Linked DNA regions of Homo sapiens: region 1 is linked to region 2. Evidence: fine-mapped expression QTL. A gene starts in region 2. The other region holds a variant in brackets. All regions are shown on one strand. Distances are from middle to middle.

Region 1 (5,341 bases), 37 kb before region 2:
GAGATGACCCGGGAGACATTGACTGGGTCTCCACGGCCTCCATATGGCATCCCCCGCCGGTCCAGGATGTATAAGCAGGCATCCAGCACCCCGTGGTCAAACTGGAAGGAGGGATGGAGGGCAGAGGTGACAGCCTGAACCCTAGGCCAGCACCCTGCTCCAATACCCCAGCCCCCACACCCACCCCAGCTCCTCTGGGTGTATGTGACCCTGGCCAGCCGCACCATACCTGGCCGTAGTTCCAGGTCCGCTCACCAATCTGTGCTTCGGTCCCGTAGTAAATTCTCCCAGACTCATTAAGAACATACTCCTGCCGCCAATCCTCATGGTCCACGTACACAATGTCCTCTGTGTCCCCAGAACACACAAAACTGGTTCCCTCCAGTTCTCTCCCTGGGCCTCACCTACTTCTGGCCAGTTCTGCAGGACTCATGTCCACAGAAGAAAATGCGGGGATGCCCCTAGCCTGACAGGACTGCTGTGGGAGGACACGGGGAGCATGACAGATGGTGGAGGAGATTGGCTGTAGCCAGGGGCCTTTGCCAGGAGAGGTGTGGCTGGCTGTGTGACCCTGGGCTGGCCACCTTTCTGCACCAGGCCTCGGTCCTCTCATCTGCCCAATGGGAGGCTGGCTTCTCCTGGGGTCAGGCACCTAGGCACCCCGCCACATCCGAGGGCAGGAAGCCCTTCCCTGTCTTTCCCTCCCATCTACCCTCTGCTCCAGACCCCAGCTGCTCACCTGGGCACCAGGGGTTGAAGAGGATGTAGATCTCATTGCGGGGGTCAAAGGGCAACTGGAACTCCCCAGCGTCTGATTGTGTGCGGACTGTGAACTGAAACTTGCCGATGATGGCGTTGGGGGAAGTGTGGACCCGCAGGTTCAGATTCTGCCCACTGGCCTTGACCACCTGGGCTTTCCAGCCTCCACTGCCCCCCTTGCCCACTGGGATGATCACGTGCGTGCCCTTGCCCACCTCGGGGTTGTTTCCTAGAGTAGGAAATCAGCAATTAGCTGGCAAGGCCTCCCTGAGGAGAGGGGATGGAGCCTGGGACTTCTCCCGGCCCCACCCACAATGTGTATGAGCCACTGTGTATGTCCCTACGTTGGGCCATCACCTTATTCTCTGACAGTCTCCCTTAGAGCAGCTCTGTCTCCACCCAATGCTTGCCCACATGTTAGGGCAGTGCCGCAGTCCAACATCCCAAACCTGTTCCCCTGACACTGAACTCTGAGGTGGGGAGGAGAGACGAGGGCTCCTGTCACCTTCTGCCTGCCTGACTATCACAGTGCCTGGGCTGGAGGGGCAGATCCACCTGCCCCGTATGAAAGGGCAGTCCTGATCCTGAAGGCCAACCCTGCCTGCTTCCTGGGGCTGCAGCTTCCAGAGCCCAGGGCATCCCTGGTGGAGGTGGTAGGGGTTCCTGGGAAATTAAAGGATGAGGTGGGCAAGGTTAGGCCCTAATCAAAGGGTAAAAGGAGTCACCTGCCCCAGGCAGCAGCATAATCACCAGCCTGAGAAGTCAAGCTACACCAAGCAACGCGGTAAGGGAGGCACCTGCCTTGGGTCATGGGGACAGAGGGACAGAGACAGAGAGAGACAGAATTGGCAGAGATGGGGGACATGGAAGGCAAGAGGGAGAGAGAGAGATAGAAGAGAGAACCAGCCACATCCTGGGGAATGAGAACAGATGCACAAAGGACAGAGCAGCAATGCCGAAGGAGGCACCGAGGCAGGCCCTGAAGAGGAGTACTCTGAGACCGATGCCCCAGGAGGCTTGAGGAGGATGGGCTTGGGAAAAACTGCAACACCAAGACCCTCTCTGAGACACAACCCCAGGGGCACACCCACACACTTGCACCTGCCTTATCTGGCAGAGGTGAGGAGTGGGGCAGGGAGGAGCCTAAAGACCTCTCTGACCCTAATGCCAGCCTCTCCCCACCAAACATAGGGCCTTCACCCGTCCCAATCCAAGCCCCACTGACCGATGAGTAACTCAAGGGTGATGCGATCAGAGGATTCATAGGTCCGGGACAGGAGGAGGAGCATATGGAAAGGCTGCCCGCGGCGCACTATCAGCTCGTCGTACTCATACTCGTCTGTGTGGTGCTCTCGGCGGTTCTGGTCCGAGCGCGAGCTCAGCAAGTCCACACCGTTCACTACTAGCATGCCCTCTGCAAGGACACAGCTCCGTGTCAGTGAAGCCCCATGAGGAGCCCAGGCCCTTATCATTAGCTTCCTATCCCCCCCAGAAATGCCAGGCTGAGTCTCTGGTCCCATTAAAGCCTTTTAGCTCTCAGCTGAGGAGGACAGACCGGCCTCACCTCGGATGGTGCCATCTCCAGCTGCATTGACACCGCTGCCCCGGGATACAGGCCGGCGGGAGTCTGAGCCCCGGGAGCCAGGTCTTCGAGTGCCAGAGCTGGACCCTCGACCCCTGGAGTCAGAGGGTTCAGGTCCCCAGTCGTCATCTGCCGCATTTCGGCATGAACAGCAGCCACAGCAGCGAGCCCAGAAGGAACGGCCTCCTCCTCTGCGAGAGCGTCCGTCTGGCTCTGGCTCTGGCTCTGGAGATGGCGTGGTAGGGGGCTGCAAGGGGTTGCCACCCCAACGGCCCACATCGGAACGTGGCCCATCCATCATGCCTGTTAGGAAGAGGCAGGGTGGCTCCTTAACCCAGGTAGTCCCAGCCAGTTGACCCAGAAACCCTCCATCCAGACAGCTGATTCAGTCCCACCCGATGACCGAAACAATCCCACCTTGGCCCAGAGATTCTCCAGACACATCCAGAGACCTTC[C/T]GCGAAGACCATTCAGACTCACCCAGAGAAGCTTCTCATGCTGCAGAGAAAAGCCTTCCCCTCACCCCCACCAAACAACATCCGAAAAACTGCCCAATGAAGAAACCCACTCAACGATCCATCCCAGGAAATCCACATAGTTCCCTGCATGGACACTTGTCCCAGCCTCAAGACCCAGCTGCACACACATCAGAGTGCTCCAGCATCCCTGGGCCTGGTCCGTCCACCTGCTAGCTCTGCAGTCTAGAGGTGCACAACACTGACAGCTTCTAGAACTCATTTCTTAGCAGAAATCCCCCAACTCAAGGTTCCTCACAAGACAGACAAGTGACCCCGGGGCCTGTGGTCCTTGGCATTCCCAAGTCAGGGAAGACCCCACTTGGGGCTGCCAGGAGGGGTAGGGCATGGCAGGTGCCCGGAGCCTGTGCACAGGGAAAGCAGAGTCTTGGTGTTGGGAACAGCCTAGCTGGGGCTGACAGGTACACAGCTGGCCCACACCCCACCTTGCTGGATCCAGGCACGGCCTCTGATAGTGTGGGCCGCCTGGACTCGGCACCACAGTACCCGTGGGAGCCCCTCACCTGGCAGCAGTGTTGGCAACCGCAGTACTGAGTCCTGGGGCTGAGATGGAACAGGTCAGGATGGATGGGACAGGACCCACAGACTGGATGCCGCAGGGACAGACCTGGTAAGTGACTTATGTGGGAGGGAGGGGCCAAACTGCTGTAGGGGGCGGAGAGAAGAGGCCAGGCCTCTGGGCGGGAAATGGGGAGAAGATGCTAGGGAGGGAGCAGGGGTGAGGTCTGGGGGCTTAGGCTGGGCTTTGGTGGGAGCCACCGCTGTGATGGCCCCTGGCACCAGGCTGATTCCTACCAGACTGGGCATGTGAGGAGCCCCTTCTCCCGGATGAAGAAGCTGCAAGGGCAGTGGGGCAGGCAGGCCCTTCCACCCACAGCCCTGTCTGGCCGACCTTCTGGTCCCAAGCTTAGGCTGCCTACCTCTGCTCTCACAGGCTCCTGCTGCCGAGTTCTGTGCAGCCCAAGCCAGGCTCAGCCCTATGAAATTGGCCCAGGGGCCTGGTCCTGGAACTCATCCTGCCCAGGGAGGTCCTGGGATCCCAGGTTGCAGACTGGTGACATCAGCAGCCAGGCCCTCAGACTGGCTCCACCAGCTAACCCCTGACCTGCTGGCTCTACCAGATATTCTGACTCCCTCCACCCCCAAGTCTGTCCCTTCTTTCTCAGCTGCTCTACAGCCCCAGGCATGAGTGAGCTGCCCTCAAGTTTGGGATTAGGGAGATCAGAGTAGGAGCAATCTCATTTCACGTCCCCCACCCCCGCTGTAGCCTCGGGGGTTAGGGGATGTTTAGGCCTTTCCACTCAGGCTTGGGTGGGAACTGAGTCCCCCTTCCAGGGGTACAGAGTACCTTTCTCTCACTGAGAGGAGTCTCTGCTCAGTTGGACTAGAGGATTCCCTTTTCTCCAACCTGGAATTCTTCCTGGGAATCCAGACCAACCGGCTCAGGCACCTGTGCTGTGTGCATCCTTACTCCACCCCGTCACTGGGGAAACACTGAGGATGGCACCAAGGCGATCCCAAGGTAGAGAGGAGGAGGCTAGGCATCTTCAGGGAGGCTCTCCTTGGGTCTTGTCCTCAGGCCCGTCAGCCAGGGCCTTCTTCCTTCTTTCCTTCCTTCCCACTAGTGTCCCAGCTCTGCCCATGGGCCGCCTAGCAGAAGACAGTAAAAACAGGCCGACAAGAAGACACAAGGAAACAGAATCCAGGAGGGGCTGTTTGGTGATGCATCAGGCAGGGAGGTGCCGTGGGGAGTGGGGACAGAGAGGCCCCAGGAACTGGCAGGGAGCCCTCCACACCCACACTGCCTTTTCTTGTCCAGCTCCAAGCACCAGAACCTGCCCGGGGGTGGGGGCAGGTGCCCCACCTCCAACACCCTCAGTAGACACACCAGTGGATATAAACTTCCAGGCAGGTCAGCCAGAGGGCTTTGTGCAGGGGCTGCGGATTTGTGCATCACTGCAGATACGGGAAGGGGCAGGGCCCTGGCTGTCCGGACGTGTGTGAGCACATGTGGGCCCAGGCAGATCCCAGAGAACCAGTAGGATGCCTTTGTCACACTCTCTCCCTAGCTTTAATCAATCTTTCTCTCCCCACCCAGCCAGGTTTGAGTCAGTGCCCTAACCCCTGAGCCAGTCCCCTCCCCCCACCACCACTCAGGACTCTCTAGGTCAGGACAAGGTGTGTACATGGTATGTGTGGGGGGACACCATGGGAGCAGACACTCAGCTCAGGACCTCAAGGAGCTGAGGCCAGGCCGCTGCCCAACCATTCCTTAGCAATACAGAAGCAAGAACATGAGTCTAGAATCCTAGACCAAGGGTAGAGACAACTTTGGTTTCAGTGCTGAAGCGCTCCGGCCAAGAACCTTGGGCAAGTCTCAACAGCAGTTTCCTCATCAGTACACTGGGCCTAAAAATCTCATCCCTGAGACTCTGTGAGGATCAAATGGTATCAAGTATTCTCAAA
Region 2 (5,364 bases):
ATGGGTCCTGGCAGTGGAGCACCCACCTGAGTCCGACGTTGTTGATATCATCCCACATGGAGGCAGGGGTTTCCCAGAATGCCTTATTCCTGGTGTTCAGGATCGTCTGGAAGGCACAGGGAGGGTGATGAATGATCTGAAGGTAGGGAGGTGTGAGGGGCTGGGTAATGGAAGGGACAATGAGTGGGGATGAAGATGCAGGGGTCTGAGGGGGAGGTCAGAAATGTGGAGTTGGGAACAAAGTTCAAAGGGTACCTGGACCCCTGCATAAGCATTGTTGACCAGCACATCTAGACGCCCTTGCTGTTCCCGATCCACTTGCTCAAACAGGCTTCGCACTTCACTCTCCTGGCTTGAATCGCACACCACAGGCACACATTGGCCCCCGAGGGATTGTGCCTGGAGTAGGACAGGGGATATGAGCTCACATTCACACATGGGTGTGAGTCATGACAAAACTCCCCAACCAAAGTGGGCTTGAGAACTGAGAAGACAATCAATCCTAGGAGAGCCTGCTGCAGAGGCAACATGGCAGGCAACGCTGCCCTCTGGTGTCTGTTTGAGTAGTTTCAGGAATGATAGGCCTCCCCACCACAGAGCAAGGTGAATTGCAATGTAAGTTTTAATAATCTACAAACATTTACTGAGGCCCACCATGTGCACAGCATTGTACTTTGCAAGTAGAGGGTAAGAACAAGTGAGGCATGGAGTCTGCTCTTGAGAAATGAGTAAGCATCCTTTTCCTTGTTGTGGTCATTTCCATCTCTCATGCCCTTAGCTCCCACCCTACACTACTCACCTAAAACCTCTACTCAGTCCCAGTTGTCTTACCCTCACTCCACCAATGCTCCTGGTTGGTAATTGAAAAAACCAAAGCTATCAGCCATGAATGATTTCTACTTCCTGTTCTGTCTCACTCTCTACAAATGCCCACAAACCTCCAACTTCAGAGGAAGAAGAGTCCTTTATCTAAGAACAATCCTCCTATTCTCCAAATTTATGCTCTGGGTCCCCGCCTATTACCCTCCTTGCCTGAACTACTGCAATGCCTCCCAACGACTCACCTGACCTCCAGTCTGTCTGCCTTAAATTAATTCTTCATAATCCAGCCAGTACGACCTATCTAAAACACAAACCCTGTTCAAAATCTCCTAACTGGATCTCCATCTCTTAGAGGATGAAGCCTGAGTTCTCTATTAGGGTCTTCCAAGACCCACTCTTTCCTCTCCAGCCTCTCACTCACTACTCTTCCCTTGCATTATCTCACACATCTACTCTTTCACACAGCGTCCCTATGCTTATGGAGCTCCCTCTGCTGGAATGCTTTTCCTAACTTCCTTTACCTAATTCTTACCTTTCAAAACTCAGTTCAAGAACCACCTACCTCCTCCAGGACGCTTTCCCAAACCACTTTCCCTAGCCACTCTCCTATGTCATCTGGATGCTCCCCAACACCCCTAGAGTATTCTGTGCATATCTCCCTCTTATAATTTACCATATTCACATTACATTGAAGTGACTGCTTTCTGTACCTGACTTCCTGTTGGAATCTATCTTCATTTTTAATTAAAATTTTTTTTTTTAGAGACAGGGTCTCACTGTCACCAGGCTGGAGTGCAGTGGTGCAATCATAGCTCACTGCAACCTCGAACTCCTGGGCTCAAACGATCCTCCTGCCTCAGCCTCCCAAGTAGATGGTACTACAGGTGCAGGCCACTGTGCCTAGCTAATTATTTAAAAAATATTTTTTGTAGAGACTGGGTCTAGCTATGTTGCCCAGACTGGTCTCCAACTGCTGGCCTCAAGTGATCTTGCTGCCTTGGCCACCCAAAGTGCTGGGACTACAGGCATGAGCCACTGTACTCCACCATGGACTGAATCTTTGAAGAGCAGAAATTAGATTTTATTAGTCTTGGTAACTTCAGTGGTTTACCAATGCCTAGCAAATCATGGATACTCAAATATTTATTTAACTGAAGTCTAGTAAATAAGTAAAAAATGTGCAGTTCAATAAAGTCTTGCCTGAAATAGAGGAAAGCACAGGTCCACAACCCTTTAGTTGCAATTCCAAAATCTCTGCTCTCAAACAAAAAGTTTTTTACTTTTCTTTCTTTTCTTTTTTTTAATACAGTGTCTCGCTGTGTCGTCTAGACTGGAGTGCAGTGGTGTGATCATGGCTCAACTCCTAGGCTCAAGCGATCCTCCTGCCTCAGCCTCCGGAGTAGCTGCTGGGACTGCAGGAACGTGCCACCATGCCTGGCTCAAACACAAAGTTTTTTCATAAAACTCACTTGGCGGCAAAATTCTACCTTACCTGAAGTTATTTACGGGGTTTTTAATTTCCACTTTGAATAAATATTCACATCTTGTTGAGTAGTATTATAGTTTCAGGTAAGGGATTAGGAAAGGAGCTGTTAAGTGGAAGGGCTCTCTCGGGTGGTTTCTGCAACTGTGGTCCCAGAGGAAGCACTCACCTCCTGAGCAACAACGCGAAGGGTGTCCAGATGGCGGCCAGTGATGTAAACTGTGGCGCCTGCTTTGCAGAGCTGCAAGGCAATGCCACGGCCAATACCCCTGGAGGCACCAGTCACCACACACACTTGGCCATTCATGGGAGCTGCCATGACTCACAGGCAAAGGAGGCAGGTCTGTGGAAGCAAAGACTTACTCTGAGGGAAGCCTGGAGACTGTGTGTGTGTTGGGGCGAGGTTGGGGGGTAGGGGAGAACCTCACTAGGGCTAAGAGGAGGAGCCAAGGTAAGAATCCTTTGAGGGGAGAGGAGTCAGAGGCTGACAACTGGGTGCGGGCCTGAGGACAAGGCTGACTGTCTTTTGGGAGGCCCAGAGAGTGAAGAAGGGGCTGAGTGGGACTGTCCAGAGGTGGACAACTACTACAACCCTCTGAGTGTGGCTGCCTGGATATGGGAATCTGGCGCGGCAGCCCCTCGGGGCGCGTCCACGCAGAGTCCTGGGCTATCTGAAGCTCCGGTCCCTGGCCTGACCCAGTCCGGCTGAGCCAGAGGCGCAGCTTCCGGGCCGGGGATGAGCGCGAAGCCTGGAGATCCTAAGCCCTAAGTGGGACGAGCGTGCGCCGCTTACCTGCCACCTGCGCTGCCGCTGAGGTCTGCAGATTGCGGGGCTGCGGTGGAAGTCTGGGTTCTCGCCCAGATTGAGCCGGCGACGTGGAGGCAGTGTTCAAGGATTGATTCTGTAGTAGGACCCGGGGCGATTCTGTGCTGAGGTAGAGGGGCAGAGTCCCAGGCCAAAGTTAGAACCTGCGGATGGGGGCGGAGCGATCTGGGTGACACACCCACCCCGCCCGGCTGGGGCGGCGCGGAACTATGACGTAGTAGCTGCGTCAGGAGCGCGCCCGCGTTTCTAAACTTTGTCTGGATAAGGCGCACGCTTGGCGACGTCGAAGGTCCGTCCGCAGTTAAGGAAGCTTTTGCAGCCGGACAGGTCGCGAAGCACACATGGGGCAGGGTCCGCGCTCTCCACACAAGGTGGGGCGCCGGTTCCCAGCTGGTGGCAAACGGGGGCGCGGGGCCAAGGGGTCGGGGCGCCCCTTACCAGGCCGTAAGCGGCAACCCTGGCCGCCTCCGGATGGGCGCTCGGAGCCGGCTCCAGATTCGCACCCGCACCTGAGCCCGGAAGCTCTGGGATATTTCCGCCGGGCGCTGTCAGCATTGAAAGAGGCTCCCGAGACTGGGGAAGAACGAGGTAGGCAGCAACTTCGGGGTTTAGACCAAGAGCATCAAATCCAGGGCAGGCAAGGAAACTTTCTAGGGTCGGCAGGGCGTGGGGACTTAGTTTCATTTCCCATGTCCTCTTCCTCGGCCTCCGACCCACGACCCTTGGTTAAGCGAGGGTACATAACTGTATTCTCTACTAAGTCTCTTCAAAGTGTGTCTTTCTTCCCTTTTCAGATCTGATGGTGCACAATATAATGAAGGAAGTAGAGACTCAGGCCCTAGCTTTGTCCACGAACAGGACTGGCAGTGAGATGCTGCAGGAACTGTTGGGATTCAGTCCCTTGAAACCGCTTTGTCGCGTGTGGGCTGCTCTGCGCTCTAACTTGCGCACTGTGGCCTGTCACCGATGCGGGGTCCATGTATTACAAAGTGCTTTGCTACAGCTCCCTCGATTGCTGGGGAGTGCTGCAGAGGAGGAGGAGGAGGAGGAGGAGGATGGAAAGGATGGTCCCACGGAGACCCTGGAGGAGCTGGTCCTGGGACTAGCCGCTGAGGTGTGTGATGATTTTCTTGTCTACTGTGGAGACACACATGGCAGCTTCGTGGTCAGAACTCTGCTTCAGGTGTTAGGAGGGACTATTCTGGAGTCTGAGAGAGCCAGGCCCCGTGGTTCCCAATCATCTGGTAAGTATTACAAGAGGAAAGTGGACCTAGGGGGAAGAAGAATTTAGAAAGTTCAGAATGAGACAGTAAACAGAAGAGTAAGTCTTCATGGGGGAGCTTGACCGGGAAGAATTAGCTTGACCTGTCCTAATCTGAACAGGGCTTAGCAAGCCAAAGATTAGTGTGTGCGGAGGCCCAGAGGTAGGGATGTACAGTTGTGTTTGGGGAAGGCTATTAGAATGGACGCAGGAGGAGAATTTTTTTTAAGCATGACTTAATATACAAATGGACTTAAGCAAAAGTAACATACACACTGGACTCAAGCAAAAGTTCAGGAAACTATACCCTTACTACATGCAGCCCACTCTGTTATTTTTTTTTCCTTTTCAAAACTATTCTGCTCTATTTCATTTAAAAAAAATGCTAGTTGAGACCACTAACTTGATTTCATGGTACAGTCTTGAGCTGTGATCCACATTTTGAAAAACTAGGAAATAAAGTTAGCGAGTTTAAATGAGGCTTTATTTTGGAATGGCTTGAATACCTGGCTGAGGAGGTTGAACTGTCTTCTGTGGACCATGGGGAAGCTGGTTGAAGTTTCTTAGAAAAATTAAGACAGAAATGTAGTCTCAGTTCAGTCATCCAGAAGAGACATTTAGTTGTACTACATCTGTTCTGCATCTCCAAGCGGAATCCTTGTTCATCTGTGAAATTTTTCTCTCCTGGATGGCAGTTTGTGATCTCCCCACTGCACATGTTCTTAATCTTCCTTCAGAAGCACAGAAGACCCCAGCTCAGGAATGTAAGCCAGCTGATTTTGAAGTCCCTGAAACCTTTTTGAATCGCCTTCAGGACCTGAGCTCCTCCTTTCTGAAGGACATTGCAGGTAAGGAGGGAAGTAGGAGGATGGTCTCGTATCTACTTGTCTGGAGGTCATCTTACCACCAAGCAAGGCCCTTACCTCAGGTTATTCCTCTTCTTTTCAAACCTGGTCTGGTTTGACGTTCAGA

Alleles and levels. Positions count from the first base shown, and alleles are read on the strand shown. Sizes are in standard deviations (SD) of each study's normalised expression.
For the expression in whole blood of the gene that starts at base 3,368 in region 2, allele T in region 1 goes with a lower level than allele C (small effect, 0.39 SD a copy in GTEx).

What was found.
Region 1: its variant is fine-mapped to the expression of NOP9 in whole blood (GTEx, PIP 0.92).

The regions. Positions count from the first base shown.
Region 1 is chr14:24,259,711-24,265,051 of GRCh38, forward strand. TGM1 (transglutaminase 1) reads right to left here and starts at 3,467. Exons shown (of 15, transcript NM_000359.3): 1 at 3,379-3,467; 2 at 2,324-2,644; 3 at 1,985-2,173; 4 at 740-988; 5 at 230-348; 6 at 1-101. The coding sequence starts at 2,642. RefSeq lists promoters at 2,642-5,341, 2,642-4,395, 2,650-2,845, 3,406-5,072, 3,455-5,341 and an enhancer at 3,942-3,950. The variant C/T (reference allele first, on the strand shown) is at 2,798.
Region 2 is chr14:24,296,483-24,301,846 of GRCh38, forward strand. It overlaps NOP9 (NOP9 nucleolar protein), which reads left to right and starts at 3,368. Exons shown (of 10, transcript NM_174913.3): 1 at 3,368-3,719; 2 at 3,926-4,375; 3 at 5,130-5,240. The coding sequence starts at 3,473. It overlaps DHRS1 (dehydrogenase/reductase 1), which reads right to left and starts at 3,298. Exons shown (of 9, transcript NM_001136050.3): 1 at 3,099-3,298; 2 at 2,475-2,648; 3 at 256-399; 4 at 27-106. The coding sequence starts at 2,624. RefSeq lists an enhancer at 1,852-2,642.